2 separate regions of the Homo sapiens genome follow, and region 1 is linked to region 2. A link means that fine-mapping ties the variant in region 2 to the expression of a gene that starts in the linked region. Tissue or cell type: breast. Region 2 holds a variant in brackets; the other region holds the start of a gene. All regions are shown on one strand. Distances are between the middles of the regions.

Region 1 (9,628 bases), 43 kb before region 2:
TAAAAAGTCAAAAAGTAACAGATGCTGGTAAGGTTTCAAAGAAAAGGGAACACTTGTATACTGCTGGTGGGAATGTAAATTAGTTCAGCCATTGTAGAAAGCAGTGTGGCAATTTCTCAAAGAACTTAAAACAGAATTACCATTTGACCCAGCAATCTCATTATAGGGTATATACCCAAAGGGATACAAATTGTTCTACCATAAAGATACATGCACTGATATGTTTATTGCAGCAACTATTCACAATAGAAAAGACATGGACTCAACCTAAATGCCCATGAATGGTAGTACACTGCATAAAGAAAATGTGGTACATATTTGTATATATACCACATATATAAATGTGGTATATATATACACGTGTAAATGGAATACTACACAGCCATAAAAAAGAACAAGATCATGTCCTTTGCAGCAATATGGATGGATCTGGAGGCCATTATTCTAAGCAAACTGAAGCAGGAACAGAAAACAAAATACTGCATATTCTCACTTATAAGTGAGAGCTAAACGCTGAGTACGTATGGACACATAGAAAGGACAACAGACACTGGGCCCTACTTGTGGCTGGAGGGTGGGAGGAGGGTGAGGATCAAAAAACTACCTATCAGATACTAAGTTTATTACCTGGGTGACAAAATAATCTGTCCACCAAACCCCTGTGACACAAAATTTATCTATATAACAAACCTGCACGTTACTCCTGAACCCAAAATAAAAGTTTTTTAAAAACCATGCTGGTGTCTGTGTATGTGCAAATATATGGGCAAATTGCAAATAATTCATGTTTTCGCTTTAAAAAGTAATACATGAAGTTGGTATAGACTCTTAGTTATTTGTATAAAATATAGGAAATAATTCAAAGAAACAAAACTTTATTTAAAACTTTTAAAAATAAACAAATATGAATAGAAACTCACAACATATATATGCATATGCATAGGAATATAAATATAATCTACTTCCCAGCAATTCCACTTTGAATCTACCCCCATAGAAAGAAAACACCAGGATGTAGAGAATGTTTATTGTTAATTGCCTTTAGTGACAAAAACTGGAAACAAAGTTAATTTTCATGAATAGAGAATTGAATGTATAAATTACGGTGTATCCATAACATAGAAATAATATTTAACCACTGAAAAATGAGTTAAATCTATACCTGTTGACTCTGAAACAGCTGGGCAAAGTTTAGAGTGGGAAAAACAAAATACAGACAACAATGAAAGTCCTATATTTGCATTTACATGTGTGAATATTATGTATGTTTGTATTTCCATCTAGATAGTATCAAAGAGTCTGGACAAATAAGGAAGGATTTATACTACATTGTTAACAGCGTTTACTTTAAGATGTGTGATCCTGTGTTGAGTGTCAAGGAAGATGTTCAGTGAAAAGAGGAACGAAGGGGGAAAAAGGATAAGAAAACAAGAATATCAGCTCTTGGAGGGAAATAGCATGTATAGAATTTTATCTATATATTTGTGCAAAGCTGTAGGGGGAAAATTCATTACTTTATAGATGGGTGATGCTAGATAAAGTGTCTCCTCATATCATAGGTATGAACCAAAAACAACTTCTGCTACTGTATAGCTGAGGCTTTTTTTTTTCCTCAATGGTGAACCCATCATGAATATGCTTTTTCTTTTTAAGAAGAGAAACTAGCTTTAGCAAGTCATAAGGATTCCTAAGATATGGCTACCAGCCATGAAAATCCCGGAGTAGAAAGAAAAACAACCCCAAGTCAGACTCATCAACACATCAGAGTTGAAGGCCAGGGTAAGGAACGTAGGTGTCCCAGTGCCTGGCACCAGTTCCACCATTTGAGGTGGCTTTGGACTGGCATACAAAGCCTCAAAGTTAGCCGAGGGCTAGGCAGGATGGAGGCAGGGAGAGAAGGCGGGCTGACCTGCGCTCCAGTCCCTATGCAAACCTGGAAGGTGAGCAGGGAGAAGAACCCCTGATGCCACCCAGGGCCCCGCTCTGACCTGCAGGCTCATAGGTGGGCAGTCATTATGGGACTTTAAGCAGAGTGACAAGGTTTGATTTATAAAACTTCAGCCTGAAATATTCGCCTTTTTTCCACCCTCAACCTCTTCCCATCCTAACTCATTCTTCAGGCTTCTTCATGGATGAGATTTTCTTCCATCTGTACGGATACCCCTCATTGTTTAGGTTAGGTGGCCTCCCTCTTCTCTCCTCACTCAGGGCTTAGTACCTTTGGTCATCATAATACCGCCCATTTTGTATGGTTCATTGCTTCTTGTTTGTCTTCCTCCATACTGTAAGTGCTTGTTCACCCCCCAGCCCCAGTGCCCAGCACAGTACCTGCTTCAAAATATCAACTTGCTGTACTAATGGAGGATAAATGGATTAATGTTTACTTTTTAGCTATTTCATATTTATTTTATATTTAGCTCTTATTACATATTTAGATTTTATTCGATTAGCTTTCTTTTTCTCCCTTAACCACTGAATAAAGTTCCTTTTGAAAACGTCAGCCTGGCTCTAATGGACAGGGAGAAAAAAGAAAAGATAACTTTAAACAGCTTGGAAGGAAAATTAAAGATAGAGAAGTTTCCCCTCCCCCCTCCCCCACCCTCCGCATCCCCTTCCCTCTCCCTTTTCCTCCCTCTCTCTGTCAGCTCTTTGAGATGGTGGAAGCCTCAAGCAGAGATCCAAGGTGGAGGAGGCATTCCCTTCCACAAAGAAGACCTCTTGTGCAGCCGCTCTAAATAAAGGGACGCTGTTCTCTTGAAAGCATCTCTAGAGTTTTCTATGCAGTGTGTTTACGGGTGCCTAGGAGAACCTGGCAAAGCAATGTGCGGTTCCTATATACGCTAAAATCCCAGGCTCCGAAAAAATACAGAGTGAAACAGCAGATTCTCCTCCCCGGCGTGGGATCCAATTTTTGCCCGGCATAAGTGTATAGTAAATTTCCCAGCCTTAAAGCACTTCCCGAGAGATGCTTTGAGCGCTCGCGGTACCAGTGCGTAAACGCCGCTCCCCGGCTGGCGCGGGTGTGCGCCAACTCCAACCTGCGCGCAAGTCTGCCGGTGCGCGCTCCAGTCCCACAGCTCCGAGTCCCCGCAGTGAAAGGAGGGGGCGGTGCACCGGGGTAGATGGGCCCCTGAGGACTCCCGGGGTTCAGTTTTCCGCGGAACTCTGCCTGCAGCAGTCTGGCGGGAACGTGCTGCGGAGCTCATCCCATCTTGGCTTCTCCAAAAGGGTTTATACGGACTGGCGAGTCTTTGCCCTGCCTCCTCCAAGTGTCTGGCACCAGTTCTACCGTTTGAAATGGTCTTGGACTGGGATACGAGGCCTCAAAGTCAGAAGACGGCAGGGCAGGATGGAGGCGGGCAGAGAAGGCTGGCTGACCTGTCCTCCAGCCCCTATGCAAACCTGGAAGGGGAACAGGGAGAAGGACCACCGATGCCACCCCGAGCCCGGCTCTGGCCTGCAGGCTTGGCAGGCGCGGAGGCGGAGGCTGCCAGGTCCCCGGGAGGCAAACGCAGCGCCGCAGTGATTGCTGGCGGAGAGCCCAGAGCCGCGCGTCTGAGCGACAAGCTGCCTATGAGTGTGGCTCCTGCGCTCACCAAGATTCGCAGGGAGCTCAGCCCTGTCCCCAGTGATTGAGCAGAGGCTCATCCAGAGGGGTCAGGTGGAGGGCTCAAATGGAGCTTCTCCTGGAACGAGGGGCCAAGTCACCAGGGTGGCTGAGGAAAGTGTCCTCAAAGCTTAGAGACTGTCACTTCCCAGGTGAATCAGCTAGCCAGGTAACTGAGCTAGATATTTTGTGGGGGTGTTTCCTAAACACAGCCTCAGGAAAGTTGTTTTCGGGACACCTGGACCAGGGAGTCGTCGCCTCTGGCTTCTCGGTAGCTGGAGCGCGGCCCGGAGCGCGGCGCTGGCACATCGCCCCCACACATGACCGTTTCCCATTGCCACAGGCAAGCCGCCTCTGCAGAGCTGTCTCAGGGCTCTGGGCTTCATTCCCTGGAAGTTGATTGTCCTCCACTCCAGCTGTTTCCCAAATCCTTCCTTCCTCCCAGCACCCCTCGTGCAACGACGATTCCAGCTGCGGACCGCATCTGTGTCAGTTACTTCCAAGCCACCTACTGCCCCCTCGCGGAGTGCGTGGGGCTCCCGGCTCGCAGACTCCCACGGCAAGTAGCAAGCAGCAAAAGGCGTGGTAGCTGCGGCGGTGGAATGAGACAGTTGTCAACAGCTGGCGCAGCTGCCGCGCTGCGCACCGGGACTGGCGAGTACGCAGCCCAGGTACTGCCCCTTCCCAGTGACGTCTCTGCAGGGGGTTATAAAAGCCTCGTGCGCAGCTAACTCGCGAGCTGAGCAACCCGAACCGAGAGGTGCCCGCGAAACTGCAGGCGGCGGCAGCGGCAGCAAAAGAGAAGGAAAAATCTCCAGCTGGATACGAAGCTCCAGAATCCTGGCCATAGGCTCAGAACTTTTACAGGTCGCGCTGCAATGGGCCCCCACTTCGCTCCTAAGTCCTCACGCAGCACAGGGCTTTGCCTTTCCCTGCGGAGGAAGGAGAAATAGGAGTTGCAGGCAGCAGCAGGTGCATAAATGCGGGGGATCTCTTGCTTCCTAGAACTGTGACCGGTGGAATTTCTTTCCCTTTTTCAGTTTACCGCAAGAGAGATGCTGTCTCCAGACTTCTGAACTCAAACGTCTCCTGAAGCTTGAAAGTGGAGGAATTCAGAGCCACCGCGGGCAGGCGGGCAGTGCATCCAGAAGCGTTTATATTCTGAGCGCCAGTTCAGCTTTCAAAAAGAGTGCTGCCCAGAAAAAGCCTTCCACCCTCCTGTCTGGCTTTAGAAGGACCCTGAGCCCCAGGCGCCAGCCACAGGACTCTGCTGCAGAGGGGGGTTGTGTACAGATAGTAGGGCTTTACCGCCTAGCTTCGAAATGGATAACGTCCTCCCGGTGGACTCAGACCTCTCCCCAAACATCTCCACTAACACCTCGGAACCCAATCAGTTCGTGCAACCAGCCTGGCAAATTGTCCTTTGGGCAGCTGCCTACACGGTCATTGTGGTGACCTCTGTGGTGGGCAACGTGGTAGTGATGTGGATCATCTTAGCCCACAAAAGAATGAGGACAGTGACGAACTATTTTCTGGTGAACCTGGCCTTCGCGGAGGCCTCCATGGCTGCATTCAATACAGTGGTGAACTTCACCTATGCTGTCCACAACGAATGGTACTACGGCCTGTTCTACTGCAAGTTCCACAACTTCTTTCCCATCGCCGCTGTCTTCGCCAGTATCTACTCCATGACGGCTGTGGCCTTTGATAGGTGAGATTAGCCTTTGTGAAAAGGCGAGAAAGTGCTCATAGAGGACCACGGCATTGCTGTGAGGTTTGGAACTGGGTGGGGTATGGGTCAAGTGGAAGATTGGCCACTCTGAGGGTTTTTTTACTGATCAACTGAGTCATTTGTTGATGGGGAACTTCATCTTATGTATTTCAACTTTTTTTCCTCTTTTTTACCCATCACTCTCTCTCTTCCTTTCAACACACATCCCCCTTTTCTTCATTTAACTCCCCTTTCTTCATCTCTTCTCCACTCATCTTCCTGACACTTTCAACTTCTGCTTTGCTCCTTTCCATATATTCCTTCTCCCCTTTACCCTTGCAGGCTGCAAACAATACCTAGGGTTTGGTCAAAGGACTAGACCCTGGAAGGGGCTTTGTAAATTCCTCCAGGCCTGTTTTTCTGTCAGACAGCCTCTTGTTGCCTTCCTGTTTTAAGTACACCTAGAGGATTCTGGGACTTTCTGCTCCCACTGCAACTCTCCAGTTTGTTGTTGTAGTTGTTGTTGTTGTTTGGTTGGTTGGTTCGTTGGTTTGTGTTTGTTTGTTTGTTTGTTTTGGATGTGAAAGAGCATTTCATCAGTATCATAAGATACTCAGAATTCTAATGCAGTTTACTCTGTAATGCTAGGAATTCTCATTCAGGAATGAGAGACAGTTATGCTATCCTTAAGAAACTCCACGGATAGGGATCCAGGAAGCTTACCCAAGAGGTGTTCTAAATTTCTCCTGCAATGTAAAATGTATGTATTTAGCCTGTCTCTATCCACAGAGAAACATGCTTGGCAAAGGCATTTGAGAGCTCTTCTGTTCCGGCAACCAACAGGTTAGGGTTCCCAAAGCTGACTGAAAGTGAAAAGGTTGGCATTTCAAACACTGGGGATGGTATTCTGGAATGAATGGCTCTTCAGGTAGCATGATGGAAAATTGATTATTGGAGCACAGCTCTGTTGGTATTGTCTCCTTTGTGAGTATCTTAGGTCTCCAATGTGTATGTCTATGTGTGCACAGGTGTTAAATGTTTACCTGGGATGTGAAAGTATGCTTAAAACACCTACCACTGTGATTTTAAAATGGAGTCTTTTGATGTCCTTCCTGAGATAACTGAATGTGAGAAACCCAAAGAAGGAGCTAGGAGAAAACTTCAAAAAAAATTCCAAACTACTAACCCTCTTTGCATAAAGATTGTTTATAACTTGCAAATTATTAGAAGTCTTTTTTAGCTCCTGTAGTCAATGAACACTTTTAAAATCAGGGAAATCTTCATTTCCATCCTTTGCAGTGGTGTCCAAATACTGATTTGTTAGTTCCCTGTACATCTCTCTATATGCAGCTCCTATGTGCTTACTATGTTTTATGTAAAACAAATTGTGGAAAATCAGTTTGTATTTTAAATGTAGATGGTAAACCAATTACTCAAAGTGGGAGTGAAATGAATTATTTTGCAAATTTATCTTTTGTACTACACTGGTTTTCAGATATTCAGTTTGCTGAAAGTGAGGTACACCTGTAAATCTTTCTGCATTGACATGCTCCTTTAATCTCATAACAGCTTCCTTAAACTTAAAAAAGTCGATAGCATGATATATAAGTGAATATCAGGGTAGTGAAACCTGATGCCAGTTCAGCCTTACAAACACTCTCTTGATGCCCCCTAAATTAGAGGGCAAGTTTTTTGGGGGGTTTTGTTTGTTTGTTTGCTTTTTCTGCACTGGGGCTTTGCACAAGCTCTAGGAAGACCTGTCAGTCAGTGTGAGCTGGAGCATTCAGTAGCTGATGGAGCACCAGCAGACAGCTCTCTCTTTTGGCTTACACAGAAACATGTTCTGCAGCCCTGATCTTTCCTCTGGAACTTAGAAGGTTAGGGGTGGGGATGAGAGTCAGAGTCCGCACAGTGGATTGGGCAGGGAGCCAGATTTCAGCTCCGTTGTTGTTTTTCTCTAGGTAAACCACCGCAGAGCCCCGACCCTCTGTGATACCTGCTCAGTGAGACCAAAAGGTCTCGGATGCCAGAGCTTTAGGAAATGACAGCGACAGGGAATGTCACCATGTTTCCAACATGCAGATACAGCCCAGGGAGGTTACCAATGGCATTCCTAAGATTAGAGTTCAAGGTAGAATTAGGGATGAGACTTCAGGTCTCTGTCTCCATGTCTGCCAAGTGCTCCTTCTATTTTTTCTTGCTCAGCCTGGTGAGCACACTATAAACTCACCCCCTCAGGCCTTCCAATGAATATATTTCCTGCATGTGTGGTCATCCATTCTCTCCCAAGAATGTATTGGAAAGAAAGGGGGCTTTAAGTCCTCTCCCTGTAAGTTATCTCCCTTTTCTCCAGCATGGAAATGCAGACTTAGAGGAAATATTAAATCAGCTGTTTGTATATTCCTTGAATTTTTAACAGACAACCTTTGAATCAAGTCTTTAAAAATAACAGCAATGTGGCTTTCCTGATTGTAAAATTAAACCTGTTCACTGCAGAAGACTTGGGAAATATGAAGAGCACAAAAATCCAATCCCCCTTACCTAACCGACAAGAAGCAACACCTGCTAACCTTTGAATTTCTCTTTTATGACTATTATACTACATAATTGAGGTTAGATTCTATATAATTTTGTAGCCTATATTTTTCCATTGGTATTAATGAAAGACTTTAATAACACCTTCCTGTGTTATTCAAAAGTTTTCAGAAACATAATCTTAATGGCTTCATACTATTCTATTATGTGAATATGCTATTATTATTTACGTAGTCATTTCTCTACTGTTGTGTATTTAGGTGATTTCTAGATTTTTGCTATTATAATTAATAATCTAAGGAATATTTATATATGATAATTTTGTTTTGCCTTCTTGATTATTTTCTTAAGATAGATCCCAATAAGTAGAATTACTACATCAAATAAAATGAATTTTTAAAAAGCTATATCTTCTCATTTTAAAGGATTTTTAAAGGAATTGTTGAGTCAAACTATCTTGGTAAACTTTGTCAAATTTCCTATTAGAATCAAGATATATGCGGAGAAAAACTTCAGTTGCAGATTGCAGTACTAATTTAAATGTTTCCTGTAGTCTTTCTACAGGAAAGGTGGGGTGGGGTCAGGGAAGGAAAAAAAGGGATGGGGGGAAAGGAAGGGAAGGTAGGAGAAGGAGGGAAGAGGGAAGAAAAGTGGGAGGTGGGAAGGGGATAGGAGAGGAGGGGAGGGAAGAAATATCTCCATTAGAAAGAGTTTTATTTTTTGAAGGCAGCAGTTACCTAGAATTTAAAAATGTTTCAGAGACAAATGTAGCTAAATAAGATCAGGTTTACCTCTATCTAAACTCCAACAAATACCAGGGATTTTAGCTATTGAAACTCTATAATTTCTCTGACTTAGAATTTAAAAATTCTTTACAACTATAAAACTAAAAGGTATGTATGATGTTTCATGAAATTTGAAGATGGGGGACACAGAGAGGTGATGACTCCCCCCTCAACAGCCCCGTTCCCCTAACCCCCATTTTCAGGAGTTGGTGACAATTACTGGTTCTATTATGATGCTCTGGCAAGTACTGTGGAGCAGAACCTAAGAAGGGAGTAGAGGAAGGGAGGCAATCTCCAAGCCCTGCAGGGAGCTGGGGAATGGGCAACAGATAACCTGATTTGAAACCATGCACATAGCAACAGGAGCAACAGCGAGGTCCAGACAAGCACTGGCCTGGTATCACTGTTTCTCTACCTGGTAGGGGCAAGCATAATTTCAGCAAAATGAAAGGTAGCAGTTGCTCACTCAGACTCCAAATAAAATGGTCTCTCTGAGACCAAAAAATATAGTTGCCCAGAGAGAGTAATGGTTGAAGGCAAAAGAGGAATTGAGCTCTCTGAGAGAGCTGATAATGTAAAAGAGGAACCTAGAACAAAAACATGAATAAATCACAAAAACTTTGTCCACTGAACTCGTGTCTACACACTCTGTCCCAGCCATACTCAGCTACCAATTTAAATATCCTGCTTTCCAGGTCTCTATTAGACCTGCACTCTATCCTTGAACTTTACCTTGTTGGTTGAACTGCAATCTCATTGTTTATCTCAGAGCAGTCTTCCCTCACCCCACCTGGAGGGGGAATTAAATTCCAGGATCCTTTGCACTAATTCGGATGGCCCTGGAAACCCATTACCATGCACTGCTGTGATGCTGTGAATGGCCATTCACTAGAAGCTCATTGGCCACAACTGGCCCTGTCTTTTCCAATGTCAGCATTGATGTGGATCAAAATGGAGTTTGTTAATTCTCAGATGGGTCATTTAGATTTC
Region 2 (9,628 bases):
CTAATTTATTTTGGATTTATTTGCATAACAAATAAATCAAACAAAGATTTATTTGTTATAAATCTTCTTTCAAAACTGTTTTTTTCTGCCTTTTGAGCATTATGTTCCCCTCCTTTTATAATACGTACTCATAATTCATTGTCATCAATTTCATTTTTTTTTCTATTTACTCATTCTTTAATGTGCAAAGGTCTGCTCAGGAGAGATTTTCCTGTAAACTCCCAAAACTCCCAATGTATGTTTTTAATTTTGTTCCCCTGGCTATCCACATAACTGCTGGTACAATTCTTTTCTCTTTTCTCTGCTGGTTCACTTCTCTTATGAACAAGTGTTGTTTGATATTCTTACTTTCCAGCCCATCTTTTGCTGTCTTAAAGTCTTGTATGTAGTGTGAATATATTGCCATGGGGAGATATCCAGTCCCACTGCCTATCTTTTCATGAGTGGTATTGATTCCTGTAGAGTCAGACCTTCTTCCCAATTCTTTATGTGCCTGATCCAGCGAATGGTACCTCTATTGACATGTAGTAAATGCTCGGTAAATAGTTTCTCCAGGATTCAATATAACTCCCAGAATGCACTACGACTCTGTCAGACTCAGCTCTTTTTAACTGCCACCCAGACCCTCTAGGTATAAGCACTCCTAGTCACACAACATTTTATGGGTAATTGTAGCCTCAAGCCAGTGCAAGAAAACAGTAACTAATATTAGGGAAAGTGTGGTCAAAATGGCTCTATTATTCTAGAAGTCAAATTGGGGCTAGCTTTCCTTTCTCTGCTGGGAAGACTCCATGTTTCTAAGGAAAGTACCTAGAGTGGGCATAGCTTTATTGACTAAAAAAAGATGGTAACCCTTATCTTTTTTCCTGCCTGTAACTTCCTCAGAACTTTGGCTAGTGGAAATTCTTCCTGTTTCCTGGCATATCACTGAGGAATTCTCGGAGTTTCCAGTTTTACAGAAACTAGTTTCTCTTTGTTTTTTCTTAGTTATATCACAGGAAGTTGGGGAGAGAAAAATCAGAATTTATTAGATTTTTAAATAAAAAGATAATACAATTAATTCATAATTATTTACATTTAACTGAGTTCTGTACTTACCAGTAGCCTCCTTTTCACATGTCTTTCTTATCTAAATTCTTTACTTTGGTTTGTGTTTCGGTTGGCTTGAGTATTTAACACTTTAAATAACGTAACTGAGGAGGGCTTGTGTTCAGGATATACTTTCTGAACCTTTACAGACCTAAAATTAGTTGCCAGCCAAGCTGGACTAAAAATCAGGTCCCCTACAAAATTAGCTACTTTGGCCTTTCCTACAAAATTAGCTACATTGTTTATCTCTCTAAAACATTAAAAAAAAAAGGTACCAATAAAAAATTATTTTACCAGGTAGTGGTTGTAGTAAGAATTAAATGAGATAATACTTCTAAAGCACTTAACACAACAGTCTTCCAAAGTTGGTACAATTACTAGCTCCATTTACAGATGAAGAAGCAGATGCTCGAGGTTGAGATAACTTGCTGGAAGCTGCACAGCTGGTTGGTGGCAGAGCCAGGCCTGGGACATGGGACCGTTTGAGTTCGGAACAGAGGCCCAACTCCAGCTAAATCACCACATTGCAAGCATCTCACCCAACCACCCATTCCTCTCTTTTCAGTTCTGCTTCCTTTGCGATGCTGGGCATATTGATTTGAGGAATACTCAGCTTTCAGGTCCCAGCTGCCAAATTAGATTATGTTGCAAACATTCAGCTGTCTCCCTATGCAACATCACATATTCAGCAGGCATTTCAACAAAAATTAATTGATGAAAATATATGGCAATCACCCAGAGCTGATAAAAACAACTTTTAACCCTGCTGCTAACTACTAACAGATTCTAAGGTTAGAACTTTGCCTGAGGCCTGCGATAGAGCACTCTTCCCCCAGGACCATTTTAATTTTTGCTGTTTATCAAAATAAATACATATTTTTTGATATTTTAGAAAATAGATGTCCTATTGCTGCCTTTTATAATAATCCCTCTTATTAAGCCAGACACTGGGAATACATAATATGCATTTTCTGCCTGGGAAAAAGGCAGAGAGCAAGGGAAAGTTAATAAGCTGTGGAAATCTCTCCATGTCCACTTGGTCAAATTAAAATTCTACTGATTACATAGTTGCCTAGAGTAATGCTTTTCCGATAAATGCTCGATCTTCGTCCATAGGAAGATCTCAGGAGACATTTACCCGAAGTGAATCAGATCCAAAGATAGTAAAAAGTGTTGGAGGACCCAGTTGGGTCATAGTTGGAGTCTTGTATTCTCTTTGCCCTTAACCATCTCTATGATCTTTGATGCATTCTTCACACAGCTAGGTTTCCATTTCTCAGTCTTAAAATAAGGTTTAGACCTAACCTATGAGGTAATAATGAGAATTTCCCAAACTCATGTGTGCATATGCAAGTTTCTTGAGAAACAGGCTCTAAACTAAAGCTCTTTTTGGTGGGGACTTGGACTCAGATTCTCTTACTTCCCTGTCTCTAGGTAGAAACACTGCAAATTGTTTTGCTGCTGTAAATTCTCTTTCAATAATCAGAAGATTTTCTTTCAGTCTATTTCCCACATCTTCCTGATAATGGCCAGTAGGCAGAACTGAAAGAACAGAATGAAATATTTGAATTGCTTAAAACCCACATCTCCCTGAATAAGATTAATACATGTATCAGGTTTTATTTCTTCTTCTTTTTTATAGAGGAACAGTTCCATCTAGTGTAAGGACAGGGCACTCCTCTTCCTGACTTCAACCCTTAGGTGGGGGATGTTCCCAGTGAGTATTTGTCACAGTCCTGGCCCCAGGCTATTTCAGGGCTGCCTGGCCACTTACCTGCCCCTTCTTTGACACATTGTTTGTGAACAGGTGGAGGAACAAGGTGGGTACAATCCCCCTTCTTAACTCTTAACAATGCAAGCTCTGATTTTCCTATGTCAAATCCTGTCTTCGTAGGTCGTTATGATGCTTGTTTGTCAGGACCTGAGTCCTCTCTTTTGGGAGAGTAGGAAAGAGAAGCTTGAGTACCTACCCAAAGTCACTGGGTAAGCCTTGCTTCCATAGGTGGGTGAGGAGGACTACAGTGGGCAGATGGTAGTAAGGAAAATGAAAGGAAAGGGAATTTGTTTAGACTTGGAGGAGAAGGGTCTAGCTTTCCTCCAAGTCTCAGTTACCAGTTTGCTCCACGGTGGTGCCTTTCCTTCTTCATCCTCCTCCTTATCAATCCCCCAACCCCTGCCCTGCCACTACCACAGACCTGAATACAAGCTGATGAGATAATCCCTTCTAGCCTCTGTTTCTGAAAACCATTGATCCAGGTCAGCAGCTGGAATGCATGGGAGACATGAGTCCTTTGGAGAAATGGATGGAGCACCCAGCCCCGACTCCCATCTCCATCATGGGAGGAGAAGAGCTGTCAGCTTCATAGTGCTGAGCATTCTTTCTCATTCTCTTAGTCATTTTAATGGAAATGCAGTGTATCCCTACATTTCACTATCTCTTTACTTCATTTAGAAGAAAACTAGACACTAATGAGCATACCCAAATCCAATGTAGAAAGACAGATTGAAACAGGGGTTGGTAAACTTTGTATGAAAGACCAGTATATTCATTTCCTAGGGCTGCTATAACAAATTACCACAAACTGGGTGGCTTGAAACAAAAGAAAATTATTTTCTCACTGTTATGTAGACCAGAAGTCCAAAATCGAGGTGTTGGAAGGGCTGTGCTGCCTCCAGACACTCTTGGGTAGAATTCTTTCTTTTTTTTTTTTTTTTTTTGAGACGGAGTCTCGCTCTGTTACCCAGGCTGGAGGGCAGTGGCATGATCTCCACTCACTGCAAGCTCTGCCTCCCAGGTTCACACCATTCTCCTGCCTCAGCCTCCTGAGTAGCTGGGACCACAGGGGCCTGCCACCATGCCCGGCTAATTTTTTTTTTTTTTTTTTTGTATTTTTGGTAAGGATGGTCTCGGTCTCCTGACCTTGTGATCCGCCCGCCCTGGCCTCCCAAAGTGCTGGGATTACAGGCATGAGCCACCGCGCCCGGCCTCTTGGGTAAATTCTTACCTGCCATTTCCAGCTTCTGGTGGTTCCAGAGGTTCCTTGGCTTGTGGCTGCATAATTCCAGTCTCCACTTGTTGTGACATGGCCTTGTCCTCTGTATGTCTCTTCTCCTCTTCTATCGCTTACAAGAATACTTGTTATCATATCGAGGACCCACCACAATAATTTGTATGCACAATATGATATTTGTCACACTATTCAACTCTGTGTTATAGCACAAAAGCAGCCATAGACAATATGTAAACAAATAGTGTGACTGTGTTCCAGGATATCTTAACTTATGGACACTGAAATTTGAATTTCATAGAATTTTTACTTGTGAAATAGTCTTCTTTTTATTTTTTTCAATCATTTAAAAATGTAAAAATTGTTCTTCACTCAGAAGCCATATAAAAAAATAGGCAGCAGGCCAGCTTTGGCCTATGGGCCATAATTTACCAATCCTGAGTTAGAATAATAGAATATATCCTAAACCATCTTGATTCCTTTTTGATGGTCTCCAATAACCTTCTAATAACTCCAGCTATCTGTTCTGTCTACATTATTCTAAGTGTTTCTATGTCTCTTGACATACATTTGACCACTCTCCTTTTTAAAACTCTCTCTCTTGTTATGTGGATATGATAAAATGTAAATGTAGCTTCACAAGAAATATAATAATGGAGGGTAATTGGTGATTTTCCAAGGCAGGAGGGTGGTTGTCCTGACCTTGTTTGTCTGTATCTGAGCTATGTGACCCTTAGAACAGGAGATGGTGGCCTCTCTGGATGGAATAGAGATTTTACAGGTGAGCTGGACCAGAAGAGCTGGTGATACTCAGGTGGGGGTTGAATGGGGCAGTTGTGAGGCACTTGTGGACATTAGAGAGGTAGAGATAGAGAGAGGAGAGAAAGGGGGAAGAAGGGCATGTAAGCAAAGGGAGGGGGAGACAGGAAAAAGAGGAGAGGAGAAGAGAGGCAGAAAGATGAGCCAAGGTTGCTCACGGCAAGAGAGGAAATTAAATCCAGATGATGCTAAGTGAGCTTGAGGCTCATTAAGCCATACCAGGCAAGA[A/G]GACAGTTAGAATTGTCCTTGAGCTGAAGAGGAGAACTACGTTAGGAGCTGCAATCCCAAGAATGGAGAGAGGGTCCTGGAAGGCTTGAGGATGGGGCAAAGATGCTGGGGCTTGGGAACAGTCCCTCAACGTTTTGGGGTTTTTAGATTTTTTTGTTTGTTTTTTAAATGGAGGTCAAAGTGTAACAGCCTTCCAAAATAAACTAAGTTGTCCTTATGCAGCCCTTTCATTTGGTTTGAAAAGGTGAGGTCAGAGATGTTCATGCTCAGTGTGAATTTGGAGACGCAAAGGAGAGAGGCAGAGCACAGACTCATCTGGAGGAGAAAGGCAGCTTCCTGCCTCACTGCCCAGGACTGAGGTAGGGAGCAGGCCAAATGCGAACTTGGAAGCCAGTGGCAGAGGATGGGCCGAAAGGAGGGATAAGGGAGTACCAGGAGCTAAGCAGTGCTGTGGAGAAGGTCTTTTAGGGGACTCTTCCAACAGCAGCAGGGATGCAGGGTAGATAGACAGGGAGAGACCTGGGGCCAGAAAACCCAGAGAAGACAAGACAGTTAGGAGACTCCAGCCACAGTCCAGGCAACATGCACGAGGGCCTAACTTACAGTGGGGATGAAAGGGAATGATAGCTGGGAAACCCTCTTCAGAGGGAATCACCATGGCTCATTGGCTGACAGGTTGTAATTTCTCACTCACCTGTGCTGGGTTAGTGCTGAATCTCCACTGGGTTTCTTCAGAGAGTGTGTGTGTGTGTGTGTGTGTGTGTGTGTGTGTGTGTGGTGGGTTAGTGCTGAATCTCCACTGGGTTTCTTCAGAGTGTGTGTGTGTGTGTGTGTGTGTGTGTGTGTGTGTGTGTGCGTGCGCGCTCTTGGCTGATTATCTCCCTGGGCCAAACTTCCAATTATAAATCTCCCGGAGTGAGTGGCTTCAGCAAAGCAGTCCTTCCTTGTGACATGCTCAGTCTGGAGGTTCTGACTACTCCCCCATGAGCTCTGTAGGGGAGCTGTTTGTTGTTTGGGATTTTCAGAAACAGGATTTTCCTGCTTGGGCAGCAACAGCATGACCCTGAGTGTTCAGATCCCGAGGGAGCCAGGAGCCGGGAGGAAGGCAGCAGCAGGCTCAGCTTCCTGTAGGCCAAGCATTGCTTTGGGCAGTGAGGGGGGCATCCAAGTGAACTTTAGTTGTGCACAGCAAGCCCCACACCCCCGCCCTTCAATTAATCAGTGAGCCAGCAAGCTGGGCCTTTACTGAACTCCTATAGTGAGGCCAGTTTCCTTATCAAAAGTGAATGGCCTCATGGAGAGACCTCAGTCCCACACCCTGAATAAAGCTCAATAGTGCTGCCCACCATCAGTGATTCCAGGAAAAAAAATTTAATGAATCTGATTAGAATACTTAGAGTACACTGATGACCTGGAATTAGCTTGAATAGGAAGAGAGGATACGTGAGGAATTAAATCCTTGCACACAGGAGTTAAAACCACCTCCTCCCTTTTGCATCCCTGGTTGGTCCACCTGGATCCTCTGTCTTCACAACTTAAAAGGGTTAGCAGCCACATGGAAGGAAACAGGGAATGTGCCAGGTGAATTTCAGAAGTTTTGCCATTGCTTCTCTCCAAGTTGTACACAATTTCAATAATACTCTAAGAATTAAGAGATGTATTTTAATGGGTTTTTTTCCTGATCCTATAAACAAATCTTAGGTCATCAGATCTGGAAGAGACATCAGACCTTATGCTCTGCTTCCCTTGTAAAACTGAACGCCTTTAACAGCACAGCTCAGAGTGCAGTCAGTCAATATTGACATTTCACAAGAGAGGTCAATAATTCTCAGCAAGTGAGTAGCTGGTTCTAGCTCAGTCACCCACTTAGGTGTCAGGACTATCTTCTGAGAAGCAGTCTTTCATAACATCCCACTGAGGCTTGGATGCCTTCAGAAAAGATTTCTGACAATTCCTGTGCTTTCTTGCCATAGCATCTTGTTAGACTCAGTCAAGGTGATTGTGTATTGTTCCTACCCTGCCCTCTGCTGAGCTTTTGCCTAAAAGAACTCTTATAAGAAGTCTTAGGCTGGTGCAGTGGCTCACGCCTGTAATCCCAGCAATTTGGGAGGCCAAGGTGGGCAGATCACAAAGTCAGGAGTTCAAGACTAGCCTGGCCAATATAGTGAAACCCCATCTCTACTAAAAAATACAAAAATTAGCCAGGCGTGGTGGTGCACGCCTGTAGTCCCACTACTCGGGAAACTGAAACAGGAGAATCACTGGAACCCAGGAGGCAGAGGTTGCAGTGAGCCGAGATTGCGCTACTGCACTCCAGCCTGGTGACAGAATGAGACTCCGTCTCACAAAATACCAAACAAACAAACAAAAAAGAAGTCTTGGCCCCATCTTTCTTTGGAATTAATAGCCTTTGATCCACCCACTAGAAATGGTAGAGTGAGGTGTACAGTCTATTCTCCTAAGGAACAACCCCTTAGCAGTGAATTTCTCTAATGGGAATGCATTGGGGTGACTAAGAGAGCTGTGATCTATACACCTGTTTAGTGATATTTATCAATCATTTATTAAGCATTAATTGAGCATCTACTATGTACCAACTGTTAAGCTTCCTGTTTTCAGATTTAGAAGGAATCAGACATCTGACACTTTAACTCTCAGCCTCGGAGCATGTATTAGTCCATTTTCACACTTCTGATAAAGACATAACTGAGACTGGGAAGAAAAAGAAGTTTAATTGGACTTACAGCTCCACATGGCTAGGAGACCTCAGGATCATGGGGGGAGGTGAAAGACACTTCTTACTTGGCAGCGGCAAAAGAAAATGAGGAAGAAGCAAAAGCAGAAACCCCTGATAAAACCATCAGATCTCATGAGACTTATTCACTATCATGAGAACAGCATGGGAAACACTGGCCCCCATGATTCAATTACCTCCCCCTGGGTTCCTCCCACAACACGTGGGAATTATGGGAGATACAAATCAAATTGAGGTTTGGGTAGGGAAACAGCCAAACCATATCATTCAGCCCCTGGGCCCTACAGATCTCATGTTCTCACATTTCAAAACCAATCATGCATTTCCAACAGTCCCCCAAAGTCTTAACTCATTTCATCATTAACCCATTAACCCACAGTCCGAAGTCTCATCTGAGGCAAGACAAGTCCCTTCCACCTATGATCCTGTAAAATCAAAAGCAAGCTAGTTACTGCCTAGACACAATGGGGGTACAGATATTGGGTAAATACAGCCATTCCAAACGGGAGAAATTGGCCAAAACAATACAGGGCTCATGCAAGTCTGAAATCCAATGGGCAGTCAAATTTTAAAGTTCCAGAATGATCTCCTTTGACTCCAGGTCTCACATCGAGGTCACAGTGATGCAAGAGGTAGGTTCCCATGGTCTTGGGCAGCTCCATGCCTGTGGCTTTGCAGGGTACAGCCTCCCTCCCAGCTACTTTCACAGGCTGGTGTTGAGTGTCTACAGCCTTTTCCAGGTACATGGTGCAAGCTGTTGGTGCATCTGCTATTCTGGGGTCTGGAGGATGGTGGCCCTCTTCTCACAGCTCCACTAGGCAGTGTCCCAGTAGGAACTCTGTGTGGGGGCTCCAACCCCACATTTCCCTTCCACACTGCCCTAGCAGAGTTTCTCCATGAGGGCCCCACCCCTGCAGCAAACTTTTGACTGGGCATCCAGGTACTTCCATACGTCTTCCTAAATCTAGGCAAAGGTTCCCAAATCTCAATTCTTGACTTCTGTGCACCTGCAGGCTCAACACCATGTGGAAGCTGCCAAGGCTTGGGGCTTGCATCCTCTGAAGTCACAGCCCAAGCTGTACATTGGCCCCTTTCAGCCACAGCTGGAGTGGCTGGGACACAGGGCACCAAGTCCCTAGGCTACACACAGCACAGGGACCCTGGGCCAGATCCACAAAAACACTTTTTCCTTCTGGGCCTCTGGGCCTGTGATCGGAGGGGCTGCCATGAAGGTCTCTGACATGACCTGGAGACATTTTCCCCATGGTCTTGGGGATTAACATTAGGCTCCCTGCTACTTATGCAAACTTCTGCAGCCAGCTTGAATTTCTCCCCAGAAAATGAGTTTTTCTTTTCTATCGCATAGTCAGACTACAAATTTTCCAAACTTTTATGCTCTGCTTCCCTTATAAAACTGAATGCCTTTAACAGCATCCAAGTCACCTCTTGATTACTTTGCTGCTTAGAAATTTCTTCTGCCAGATACCCTAAATCAGCTCTTTCAAGTTCAAAGTTCCACAAATCTCTAGGGCAGGGGCAAAATGCCACCAATCTCTTTGCTAAAACATAACAAGAGTCACCTTTGCTCCAGTTCCCAACAAGTTCCTCATCTCCATCTGAGACCACCTTAGCCTGGATTTTATTGTCCATATTGCTATCAACATTTTGGGCAAAACCATTCAACAAGTCTCTAGGAAGTTCCAAACTTTCCCACATTTTTCTGTCTTCT

Direction of the effects. Alleles are on the strand shown, and positions count from the first base shown. SD is a standard deviation of normalised expression in the study named.
As copies of G replace A in region 2, the expression in breast of the gene that starts at base 4,344 in region 1 goes up (small effect, 0.22 SD a copy in GTEx).

Evidence for each region. PIP is the estimated chance that this variant, and not a neighbour inherited with it, causes the effect.
Region 1: it holds the start of TACR1, and the variant in region 2 is fine-mapped to the expression of TACR1 in breast (GTEx, PIP above 0.99). The same link has a PIP of 0.9 or more in esophagus mucosa and tibial nerve.

What each region holds. Positions count from the first base shown.
Region 1 is chr2:75,194,236-75,203,863 of GRCh38, reverse strand. TACR1 (tachykinin receptor 1) reads left to right here and starts at 4,344. Exons shown (of 5, transcript NM_001058.4): 1 at 4,344-5,318. The coding sequence starts at 4,930. The region is part of intron 2 of TACR1-AS1 (TACR1 antisense RNA 1); the gene reads right to left.
Region 2 is chr2:75,150,782-75,160,409 of GRCh38, reverse strand. All of the region lies in intron 1 of TACR1 (tachykinin receptor 1), which reads left to right. It overlaps TACR1-AS1 (TACR1 antisense RNA 1), which reads right to left and starts at 6,092. Exons shown (of 4, transcript NR_168010.1): 1 at 5,839-6,092; 2 at 4,095-4,206. The variant A/G (reference allele first, on the strand shown) is at 5,145.